Linked DNA regions of Homo sapiens. The gene in region 1 interacts genetically with each later gene. Each region holds a gene or a part of one and is shown in the gene's direction. Other genes may lie near its edges.

What was found.
Region 2: changes in MFAP1 (region 1) and PITRM1 together harm fitness more than expected from each alone (negative genetic interaction), as found in Homo sapiens cells (one large-scale study listed by BioGRID).
Region 3: changes in MFAP1 (region 1) and PSMD4 together harm fitness less than expected from each alone (positive genetic interaction), as found in Homo sapiens cells (one large-scale study listed by BioGRID).

What each region holds. Positions count from the first base shown.
Region 1 is NC_000015.10:43,814,669-43,818,320, reverse strand, and holds part of MFAP1 (microfibrillar-associated protein 1), read left to right. Parts: intron 1-872; coding exon 873-1,092; intron 1,093-3,246; coding exon 3,247-3,376; intron 3,377-3,632; coding exon 3,633-3,652. UniProt on the Homo sapiens protein: Involved in pre-mRNA splicing as a component of the spliceosome.
Region 2 is NC_000010.11:3,159,199-3,162,850, reverse strand, and holds part of PITRM1 (presequence protease, mitochondrial isoform 2 precursor), read left to right. Parts: intron 1-2,520; coding exon 2,521-2,647; intron 2,648-2,914; coding exon 2,915-3,003; intron 3,004-3,652. UniProt on the Homo sapiens protein: Metalloendopeptidase of the mitochondrial matrix that functions in peptide cleavage and degradation rather than in protein processing. Has an ATP-independent activity. Specifically cleaves peptides in the range of 5 to 65 residues.
Region 3 is NC_000001.11:151,257,734-151,261,385, forward strand, and holds part of PSMD4 (26S proteasome non-ATPase regulatory subunit 4), read left to right. Parts: intron 1-3,652. UniProt on the Homo sapiens protein: Component of the 26S proteasome, a multiprotein complex involved in the ATP-dependent degradation of ubiquitinated proteins.

The sequences.
Region 1 (3,652 bases):
TAGGCTGGGTGCTGTGGCTCACGCCTGTAATCCCAGCACTTTGGGAGGCTGAGGTGGGCGGATCATGAGGTCAGGAGATCGAGACCATCATGGCTAATACGGTGAAACCCCATCTCTACTAAAAATACAAAAAATTAGCTGGGCATGGTGGCATGCGTCTGTAGTCCCAGCTACTCAGGAAGCTGAGGCAGAAGAATCACTTGAACCCGGGAGGCGGAGGTTGCAGTGAGCCGAGACCACGCCACTGCACTCCAGCCTGGGCGACAGAGCGAGACTCCGTCTCAAAAAAAAAAAAAAAAAAAGAATTGTATTTGTAAGAGATTACATACTCTTGCATGTTTGATAACACATAAGGTAAAGGAAAAGAAGGTAGAAATAGGTAAGATTAGAATATTGAGTCATGTGGCAGTATGTTATAAAGGCTGCCATGGAAATTCCAGAGGGAACTACAAGAATGCCTGAGCAGTTTTATGTTCCTGCAGAAATTACCCTTACTATGTGCTGGGCACTGTTACAAATAATTTGTTTAAGGGTATAGTTGAGGTGGGATACCATGAATTTGTGATGGATGCAGTCTGCCTTTTTGGGGGGGGACTTTTTTCTACTGTTTCACTGCCTACCTTCCTCTACTTCATTGTACTCAAGGTAAGCCTCATTATCATCAGTGTTGGCTTTCACAAGGATGCAGTCTCATGACTTGGCCTTTGTAGGAAAACACCATTAGAAGAGTAGATGGTTGGGTAGTGGCTCTCTTCTTCTTCTGCTTAGACTCTTGTCTACTATGAATAAAGGGCTCTATTTGCAAAGGCCGTGATGGGTTGAAGCACATTGAGAAAGAGGCTACTGAAACATAAGTTACCTTTCTCGCCCAGGTGAGATTTCAATGGAAAAAGTGAAGGTAAAGCGTTATGTGTCCGGAAAAAGGCCAGACTATGCCCCTATGGAGTCCTCAGATGAGGAGGATGAAGAATTTCAGTTCATTAAGAAAGCCAAAGAACAAGAAGCAGAGCCTGAGGAACAGGAGGAGGATTCATCCAGTGACCCCCGGCTACGGCGTTTACAGAACCGTATTAGTGAAGATGTGGAAGAGAGGTAATGTCTGTGATTGTGTTTACTTGAACATGAACCTCTACAGCTTAATAATAATAATAATAGCTAATACTTGAATAGTACTACCAAGTAGATTACATTTGCTAATTCTTGTAATCCATACAATAACTTTATGAAATAGGTGCTATTATCCCCATTTCACAAAAGGAGGAAACTAAGAGCACAAAGGGGCTAAGAAAGTTACATGACCAAAGCTACAAAGTGGCAGCTTCAGGAAACAGCAGGTTACTTCTGGCCTAAAGGACCTACTCAACTCCTTATGGGAATAGAAAACACAGACCATTTGTTGGCTGTTGAGAGGAGTCTTTTTAGCACAAAGATGTTTTATAAACTTTGGTAAATTGATTTTATACATCTACTTATTCTAAATGCTAATAAGGGGAAATGACACTGAAGTAGGAGAAAAGACCTTATAAAGGTCTCATGGTAGAAAGAGAGCCTCCCAGTGAGGGATTTTGTATGTTATATATTGATGGAGACATTACTTTATAGAGTAGGCCAGGAGTCCTGAACTTTCACCGTTCATAATTGTCCCAGGAGTTTTTTCACAGAGCTCCTGGGCCAAAACAGTTCTGTTTATTTTAGTTATTAAGTAGTTAGAGCCAAGTAACTTAATAAGTATTTATGTCCTAATAACTTTGCCACTTGAAGATTAACAGTGCCCATGGCCAGGTGCGGTGGCTCACGCCTGTAATCCTAGCACTTTGGGAGGCTGAGGCGGGTGGATCACGAGGTCAGGAGTTCAAGACCAGCCTGGCCAACTTGGTAAAACCCCATCTCTACTAAAAATACAAAAAAATTAGCCAGGCCTGGTGGCGGGCACCTGTAATCCCAGCTACTTGGGAGGCTGAGGCAGAGAATTGCTTGAACCTGGCAGGCAGAGATTGCAGTGAGCCGAGATCACGCCACTGCACTCCAGCCTGGGTGACAAAGCGAGACTCCATCTCAAAAAAAAAAAAAGAAAAGAAAAAAGAAAAAAAAATAAAATTACAGTGCCCAGGGGGGAAAAAACACTTTTATTCATTCTCACATAACCATAGTTACTAGTGGAATTTGTTTGCCTGTTGGACACTGACAGCCTTTCAAACCTTGGAATCAGCACTGTCACTTTTTCATGTCTTGTTTTATATTGATTTTCATACTATACTTTCTTTTACTTTTTATCACAGCAGCCACCAAAACCCAGTTTCACAAAGACACGATATTCTCGAAAGGAATGTAGTGTGACTTAATGTTGAAAGTGAATTATCTTGAGCTATTAAAAATATTCCAATGCAGGCCAGGCTCAGTGACTCATGCCTGTAATCCCAGCACTTTGGGAGGCCTAGGCAGGCGGATCACCTGAGGTCAGGAGTTCAAGACTAGCCTGGCCAATATGGCGAAACTCCATCTCTACTAAAAATAAAAAAATTAGCTGGGTGTGGTGGTGCATGCCTGTAATCCCAGCTACTCGGGAGGCTGAGGCAGGGATTATCACTTGAACCTGGGAGGTGGAGGTTGTGGTGAGCCAAGATCATGCCCTTGCACTTCAGCCTGGGTGACAGAGTGAGATTCTGTCTCAAAAAAAAAAAAATCCCAATGCATCCCTATGAGTTTGCTGGCTTGCTGTGGTGCCCCAGGATGCCTCAACATACATTTAGTATTTCAGGCCCAACTTGACTATTCGCTCTGACATCCTAGTTTAGTTTCTTTAATCTGCACCTCAGTTTCCTCCACCTCAATACTTTAATACTGGATGGACATGGTGGCTCACACCTATAATCCCAGCACTTTGAGAGGCTGAGGTGGGCAGATTGCCTAAGTCCAGGAGTTCAAGACCAGCCTGGGCAACATGGTAAAACCCCGTCTCTACAAAAAATACAAATATTAGCCAGGTGTGGTGGCACGCCTATAGTCCCAGCTACTCAGGAGGCTGAGGTGGGAGGATCACTTGAGTCTGGGAGGCAGAGGTGGCAGTGAGCCAAGATCGCACCACTGCACTGCAGCCTGGGCGACAGAGCAAGACCCTGCCTCAAAAAAAAAAAAACTTCAGTATTAATGAAGGCAAACATAATGTGCTCTGTGGCTATGGAAATGCAGTTGATGCTACTTCATTTTTATGACATTGGTGTTACATTTGGAGATACTGTTTTTCAGATTGGCTCGACATCGAAAAATAGTGGAACCTGAAGTGGTAGGAGAGAGTGACTCAGAAGTAGAAGGAGATGCTTGGCGCATGGAACGAGAAGACAGCAGTGAAGAAGAGGAGGAGGAAATTGATGATGAGGTATGATAAAGGAACATGGGAAGTTTTTTTCTGGATATAAGAAAAAGTTCATGCCAGTGCTCATTTGTTGAAGCCTTAAAAACATGAGATCACTGCTTTGGCAGGACTCTGATCATGTTCCTTGTTTGTGGGGATAGGATTAAAAATAGAATGATACTAAGTTGTATCTTTTTACATTTGAATTTGTTGTGTTTGATGAGACGAACAAAAAGCCATAGGCCATTTGACTGACTGGCTTATATATATGACTTGATAGGAAATAGAGCGGCGGCGTGG
Region 2 (3,652 bases), on another chromosome or scaffold:
CACCTGGTCGGCCCGGGTTTCTCCTGGGCACCCTCTAGGGGACGGCAGAGGAGTGTGCAGGCCCAGTTTCTTTCTGGCGCACTCACTTTCCAGGTGGCCTGGCTGTTCCCGCCTGGTGTTGGGTGCCATGTTCCTGTGTTTCCTGAGCACTGGAACTTAGATCCAAAGACTTAGTTTGAGTCAGGCTGTGCCTTTGTAAGCAGAGTCCCTCATGGGGAGCTCTCCATAGACGGCCACATCCTACCATCATGTGAGGTCTGCTCGCCTCCACTGGGGATCTCACACCAGCGGGGTCCATGCTGAGAGTCAGCCACTGCCTTGGGAAGATCTGCTTTTTCCCTTCAGCCACAGACCATCTGGTGGGCTTGAGTTTCTGGTGTCCTGTGATAATGAGTTCCTCATCAACCTATTAATGGTTTTCATATTCATTGAGGATTATTGCCTGAATCAATTACTTTATTAGAGTTTGCGAAGTTTTCTAGTTCTGTAACTTCTTCATTTGTTTGCTGGACTTCTTCAAAGAAGAGCTCCACATCAGCTGGGCTATCGGGTTATCTTGAAATATGGTTCTGTGGAAAAGGCAGGGCCGGCTGCTCTCCCTGGGAAGTCCAGTTTGAGGAGGAGGGGTGGTGCAGGAACTACTTTTAATGGTGACAGAAGAGGCTGTCTTGTTTTTTTTTTTTTTTTTTTTTAAAGACAGGGTCTGGTTCTGTCCCCCAGGCTGGAGTACAGTGGCATGATCTTGTCTTACTGCAGCCTCAGCCTCCTGGGCCACCTCAGCCTCCTGAGTAGCTGGGACTACAGGCGCACGCCACCATGCCCAGCTAGTGCTTATATTTTTTTGTAGAGACAGAGTCTCGCCATGTTGCCCAGGCTGGTCTTGAACTTCTGAGTTCAGTCTGCCCACCTTGACCTCCCAAAGTGCTGGGATTACAGGTGTGAGCCACTGCGCCCAACATGGAGAAGAGAGTTCTTTCTTTTCTTCTTTTTTTTTTTTTTCCCCAGTCTTGTTTTGTTTTTTAGTACCACTCTGACCTCACAGAAATATTTCTGTATATGTATATATTTGAGATTATGTGATCAGATGGAATTTATTCATTTTTATGCCCACATTTGCCCCAGCTGTGGGCCCGTTTTGGTCTAACTTCTTTGGTTTCTACGCCCCCACCCCCACCTCCCTAATGCACGCACAGCCGGGCCCTCCCTGCTCCAGAGGTTCAACTGTCTGTTTCCCCAGGGAGCTCTGATTTCTGTGGCTAATGGGGAAGGGTCTTTGGAGAGCAGCATCTGAACACTAGGGGTGGTGATTGCTCCTGGATTCTCTCAACCCCGAGTGTGTAAAATTTGTTTCTAAATTCTAGAGTGAGAAATTTCTGAAGGTTCTGTAAGATACTAGTTTCCCAAACCTTAACCATAGCTCAGGCTATATAGTAAAGAAAAAGATAAATTCTGTCATTGTAACCTTTTTCCTCTGGTTGAATAAATGTGTTATCTTTATAAACGTGTATAACCTTGAATTTGTTGCCAAAAATTGAGTTTTGTGAAATTGTCAGTTGGATTACTATATTACTGTACCTAGGGTTATAAAGTGTTTTAACAAATACCTCATTTGGTTTTTGTCACATCTAGATGAAGTTTAAAATGTAAGATCGATTTTTGGCTAGGTGTGGTGGCTCATGCCTGCAAATCCAAGCACTTACGGAGGCCAAGATGGGAGGATTGCTTGAGGCCAGGAGTTTGAGACCAGCATGGGTAACATAGAACCCACCTCTAAAACTTAAAAATTAGCCGGTCAGGCACGGTGGCTCACGCCTGTAATTCCAGCACTTTGGGAGGCTGAGACGGGTGGATCACCTGAGGTCAGGAGTTCGAGACCAGCCTAACCAACATGGTGAAACCCTATCTCTACTAAAAATACAAAAATTAGCTGGGCATGGTGGTGGGCACCTGTAATCCCAGCAACTTGGGAGGCTGAGGCAGGAGAATCTTTTAAACCTGGGAGTCGGAGGTTGCAGTGAGCTGAGATTGTGCCATTGCACTCCAGCCTGGGGGGACGGGGCGAGACTCCATCTCAAAAAAAAAAACCCCCCACCAAAACCAAGTGTGGTGGTGTAGTCCTGGTAGTCCCGGCTACTGAGGAGGCTGAGGCTGGAGGATTGCTTGAGGCTGCAGTGAGCTGTGACGGTGCCACTGCACTCCAGCAGATGCCTGAAGCCAGGAATAGCACCATGCCCTGTGAATGAACGTTGAATTTATAAATTAGGCACAGCGAGAGGTTAACAACAATAACTAATAATAAAATAGAACAATTATAACAATATACTGTAATAAGTTACATGAATTTTGGTCTCTCGAAGTACCGTGATATTTTTGGACCTTGGTTGAGTAAGGGTGACTGAAACCGAAAGGCGAGACCTTGGGTAAGGGGCACTCCTGTGCTGTGTTTCAGTGAAACAGACAGCACTTGATCTCACATCTTTTAAACTAAAACAGACTAATTATATTCCCTTAAAATTTTAGGTTCTTCACGTACGGTAATTTTCCATTAGAACAGCATCTGAAACAAATTCACGAGGAAGCACTGAGCAAATTCCAGAAAATTGAACCAAGCACCGTGGTGCCAGCTCAGACACCCTGGGACAAGCCTGTGAGTGCCCCACCGTGTTTGTGTCCTTCCTGGTAAATATGTTGACATGAGGACTTGGACTGGGTATTGATGATGGGATTTCAGATGCTGTCATGTTTGGTACAGAGTATGGGAGAGCTTTTCAAGCTGAAAGAATGGTAATTTGTTTGAAAGGAAAGTTAACTTAGTGGAAAGCCTGTTTCGCTCCATTTCGTGTATCCAGATAACCTAGAGTAGTTGACAACCGTCAGACACTGTGCCTACTCACAACGTCACGTCATTTTACAGAGGGAATTCCAGATAACATGTGGCCCGGATTCATTTGCTACAGATCCCTCTAAACAAACAACCATCAGCGTTAGCTTCCTCTTACCGGAGTAAGTATATGCTGTCAAAGCTCATACAAGACAAAAACATGAGGAAAATGTTCCTATTAGAAGGTTCGGAAGTGAGTTCTACAATTGAATGTTAATTAATATACGGTTAGGATTCAGGGGTTAAGTGGATTTTAGGAATAGAGAACAAAATGTCGAAGTTTTTAATAACATCCAAAATGGTTTTTGAGGAAAATCGTTTTTGATAGCCCTCCGGAAGAAAAGTAATTTACTTATTGTATTTCAAAGCTTTATTCCTACAGAGAAAAGACTGCCTCAGACCAGCAGGTGCTCACATTTTGAGGTCACAGGTCCCTTTGAGTGTGAGAATGGTACTATGAACATGCACCTCGGCAAAATATATCACATACAAAACTTTGTAATTCCGGTGGTTTCACGAGACTAGGTCGGAACCATGCCCGGGGGTGTTCAGGAAGGGAAGGCTTGGGCTCTGGGCCCTCCCGTGCTCAGCCTGCAGCTCCGTGGCTGGCACCTCTCCTGGCTTGTTCCTTGTCTCCTTAATGGTGCTGCCACAGTGCCTGTGATTTAAATCACGTGTGAAAAGTGCTTGGCAGGCTGTCCCATGGTGAGCATTTCGTGTGCAGTGAAGTTAATTTGATGGTTTGTGCCCCCCTTCAAAAATCCCGGTATT
Region 3 (3,652 bases), on another chromosome or scaffold:
TTTTGTATTTTTAGTAAAGATGGGGTTTGGCCATGTGGCCAGGCTGGTCTTGAACTCCTGGCCTCAAGTGATCTGCCCACCTCAGCCTCCCAAAGTGCTGGAATTACAGGTGTGAGCCACCATGCTCGGCAGTATGGCCATTTTAATGATATTGATTCTTCCTATTCATGAGCATGAGATGTTTTTCCACTTGTTTATATCTTCTTTGATTTATTTGAGCGGTATTTTGTAATTCTCATTGTAGAGCTCTTTCATCTCCCTGGTTAGTTGTATTCCTAGGTTTGTTTGTCTATTTGTTTGTTTTTTTGAGATGGAGTCTCGCTTTTGTTGCCCAGGCTGGAGTGCAGTGGCGCCATCTCGGCTCACTGCAACCTCCACCTCCCGGGTTCAAATGATTCTCCTGTCTCAGCCTCCCGAGTAGCTGGGATTACAGGTGCGTGCCACCATGCCCGGGTAATTTTTTTCTGTATTTTTAGTAGAGATGAGGTTTCATCATATTGGTCAGGCTGGTCTCGAACACTTGACCTCAGGTGATCCACCAGCCTCAGCCTCCCAAAGTGCTGAGATTACAGGCATGAGCCACAACACCCAGCCAAGGTATTTTATTCTTTTTGTGGCAGTATGCACATAGTTCTTGGCCCCATGTAGTGCATCATGGGGAACCTGCTGTTGATGTGACTGCCTTGCACATGTGCCATTGTATTACCCTTTTCGAGTGTTTTTTTTTTTTTTTTTTTTTTTGGGGGAGACAGGGTCTCATTCTGTCACCCAGGCTGGAGTGCAGTAGTGTGATCTTGGCTCACTGCAGCCTCGACCTCCGGGGCTCAAGTGATCCTCCTGCCTCAGCCTCCTGAATAGCTGGGACTACAGGCACTTACCACCATGCCCAGCTATTTTTTGTATTTTTTGTAGAGATGGGGTTTTGTCATATTGATTAGGCTGGTCTCGAACTCTTGGGCTCAAGAGAGCCTCCCTCCTTGGACTCCCTAAGTGCTGGGATTACAGGCATGAACCATCACACCCAGCCTGTATTCTCTTTTAAAATAAAGGTTTTGGCGGTAATCCCAGCTACTTAGGAGGCTGAGGCAGGAGAAGGGGTTAAGCCCAGGAGTTTGAGGTTACAGTGAGCTATGATTTCACCACTGGCCTCCAGCCTGGGTGACAGAGCAAGATCCTGTCTCAAAAAAATATGTGAAATGGCCAGGTGCGGTGGCTTACACCTGTAATCCCAGCACTTTGAGAGGTTGAGGTGGGCGGATCATCAGAGGTCAGGAGCTCAAGACCAACCTGGCCAACATAGTGAAACCCCGTCTCTACTAAAAATACAAAAATTAGCTGGCATGGTGGTGCACGCCTGTGGTCCCAGCTACCCGGGAAGCTGAAGTGGGAAGATCTATTGAGCCTGGGAGGTTGAGGCTACAGTGAGCTGTGACTGCGCTTGAACCTGTGCCTGCGCTTGAACCTGTGCCTGAATACTACCCTAGACAGGTTGAGTATTCCCTATCTGAAATGGCTAGGACCATAAGTGTTTCAGATTTTGGATTTTTGTCAGATTTTAGAATATGTACATTATACTTAACCAGCGGAGTATCCCTAATCTGGAAGTCTGAAGTGCTCCAGTGATAATTTCCTTTGAACATCATGTCAGCACTCAAAACTCAAAAACTTTCTGATTTGGGGCATTTCGGATCTCAAGAGTTTCTGATTAAGTGTACTTAACCTATATATTCCCTTTTCTGTTAATACTTGTTTTCCAGTACCTTCTTAATTACTTCTCTTTACCATTTTTGGTTTATTGCCAAACAAAGCATACTAAAGAAAAAAAAATTGCCCCAGGCTCACATTTTGCTTGCCAATAGAAATGAGATGTCTTGGCTAGGTGCCGTGGCTCACACCTGTAATCCCAGCACTTTGAGAGGCCAAGGCAGGAGGACTACATGAGTCTAGGAGTTTGTGACTAGCCTGGGCAACAAAGTGAGACTCCATCTCTATAAAATAAAAAATAAATAAAAAATGTGGTTTTTTTTGGTAGAGACTGGGTCTTCCTGTGTTGCCCAGGCTGTTCTCCAACTCCTGGGCTCAAGCGATTCTCCCTTCTCGGCCTCCCAAAGTGCTGGGATTACAGACGTGAGCCACCATGCCCAGCCTAAAAAATAGATAAAATTCTAAAAAGAAGAAATGAGGGCCAAGTGTGGTGGCTCATGCCTGTAATCCCAGCACTTTGGTAGATTGAGGTGGGTGGATCACCTGAGGTTGGGAGTTTGAGACCAACCTGACCAACATGGAGGAACCCCGTCTCTACTAAAAATACAAAATTAGCCGGGTATGGTGGTTGCATGCCTGTTATCCCAGCTACTTAGGAGGCTGAGGGAGGAGAATTGCTTGAACCTGGTAGGCGGAGGTTGCGGTGAGCCGAGATCGAGCCATTGCACTCCAGCCTGGGCAACAAGAGCGAAACTCTGTCTCAAAAAAAAAAAAAAGAAAGAAATGAGGTATCTCATCTAAGGCACTGCTTCCGTCCATTAGCACAGGTAGAACCTTAACTATTAGAGCTCTCAGGGACCTCAGAGGTCATCAAGAATTGATCCTTACAGGAGCTTATATAACTGCATCACTTACCTGCCTTCTTCTGGTCTTTGGGAAACTCGAGATTATATTTCACATTAGCTGGATACTTTTAGATCATGAAAAGTTGCAGGGATCTAAGAGGTGAGACTTCAGATCCACAAAACCTCATTTTTACCGTTCAGTTCAGCTGTCAAAGCTGTTAAGCATTTAATGAGATGATTGCATTGTACTTTTCTGCACTCAGTGCTGCCAAGTGTGTGTTATTTTATAGACCTCTTTTTTTTGAGGCAGTGGCACGATCTTGGCTCAATGCAGCCTCCACCTCTCAGGTTCAGGTGATTCTCCTGCCTCAGCCACCCGAATAGCTGGGATTACAGGTGCCTGCCACCACGCCCGGCTAACTTTTATATTTTTTAGTAGAGATAGGGTTTCACCATGTTTGCCAGGCTGGTCTCAAACTCCTGAGCTCAAGAGATCTGCCCACCTCGGCCCCCCAAAGTGCTGGGATTACAGTTGTGAGCCACCATGCCTGGCCCTATTTTATAGATTTTTTTTTTTTTTTTTGATGGAGTCTCACTCTGTCACCCAGGCTGGAGTGCAGTGGCGTGATCTTGACTCACTGCAACCTCGGCCTCCCGGGTTCAAGCAATTCTCCTGCCTCAACCTCCTGAGTAGCTAGGACTACAAGTGTGCGCCACCATACCTGGCTAATTATTGTATTTTTAGTAGAGACGGGGTTTCACAATGTTAGCCAACACTGGTCTCTAACTCCTGACTTCAGGTGATACACCCGCCTCCACCTCCCAAAGTGCTGGGATGCACTTGGGAGGCATAAGTCACTGTGCCCAGCCTATTTTATAGATTTTTTTTTTCTTTTTCTTTTTTTTTTTTTTTTTTTGAGACGAAGTTTTGCTCTTGTTGCCCAGGCTGGAGTACAATGGTGTGATCACCACAACCTCCGTCTCCTGGGTTCAGGCGATTCTTCTGCCTCAGCCTCCCGAGTAGCTGGGATTACAGGCATGTGCCACCACGCCCAGCTAATTTTCTACTTTTAGTAGAGACAGGGTTTCTCCATGTTGGTCAG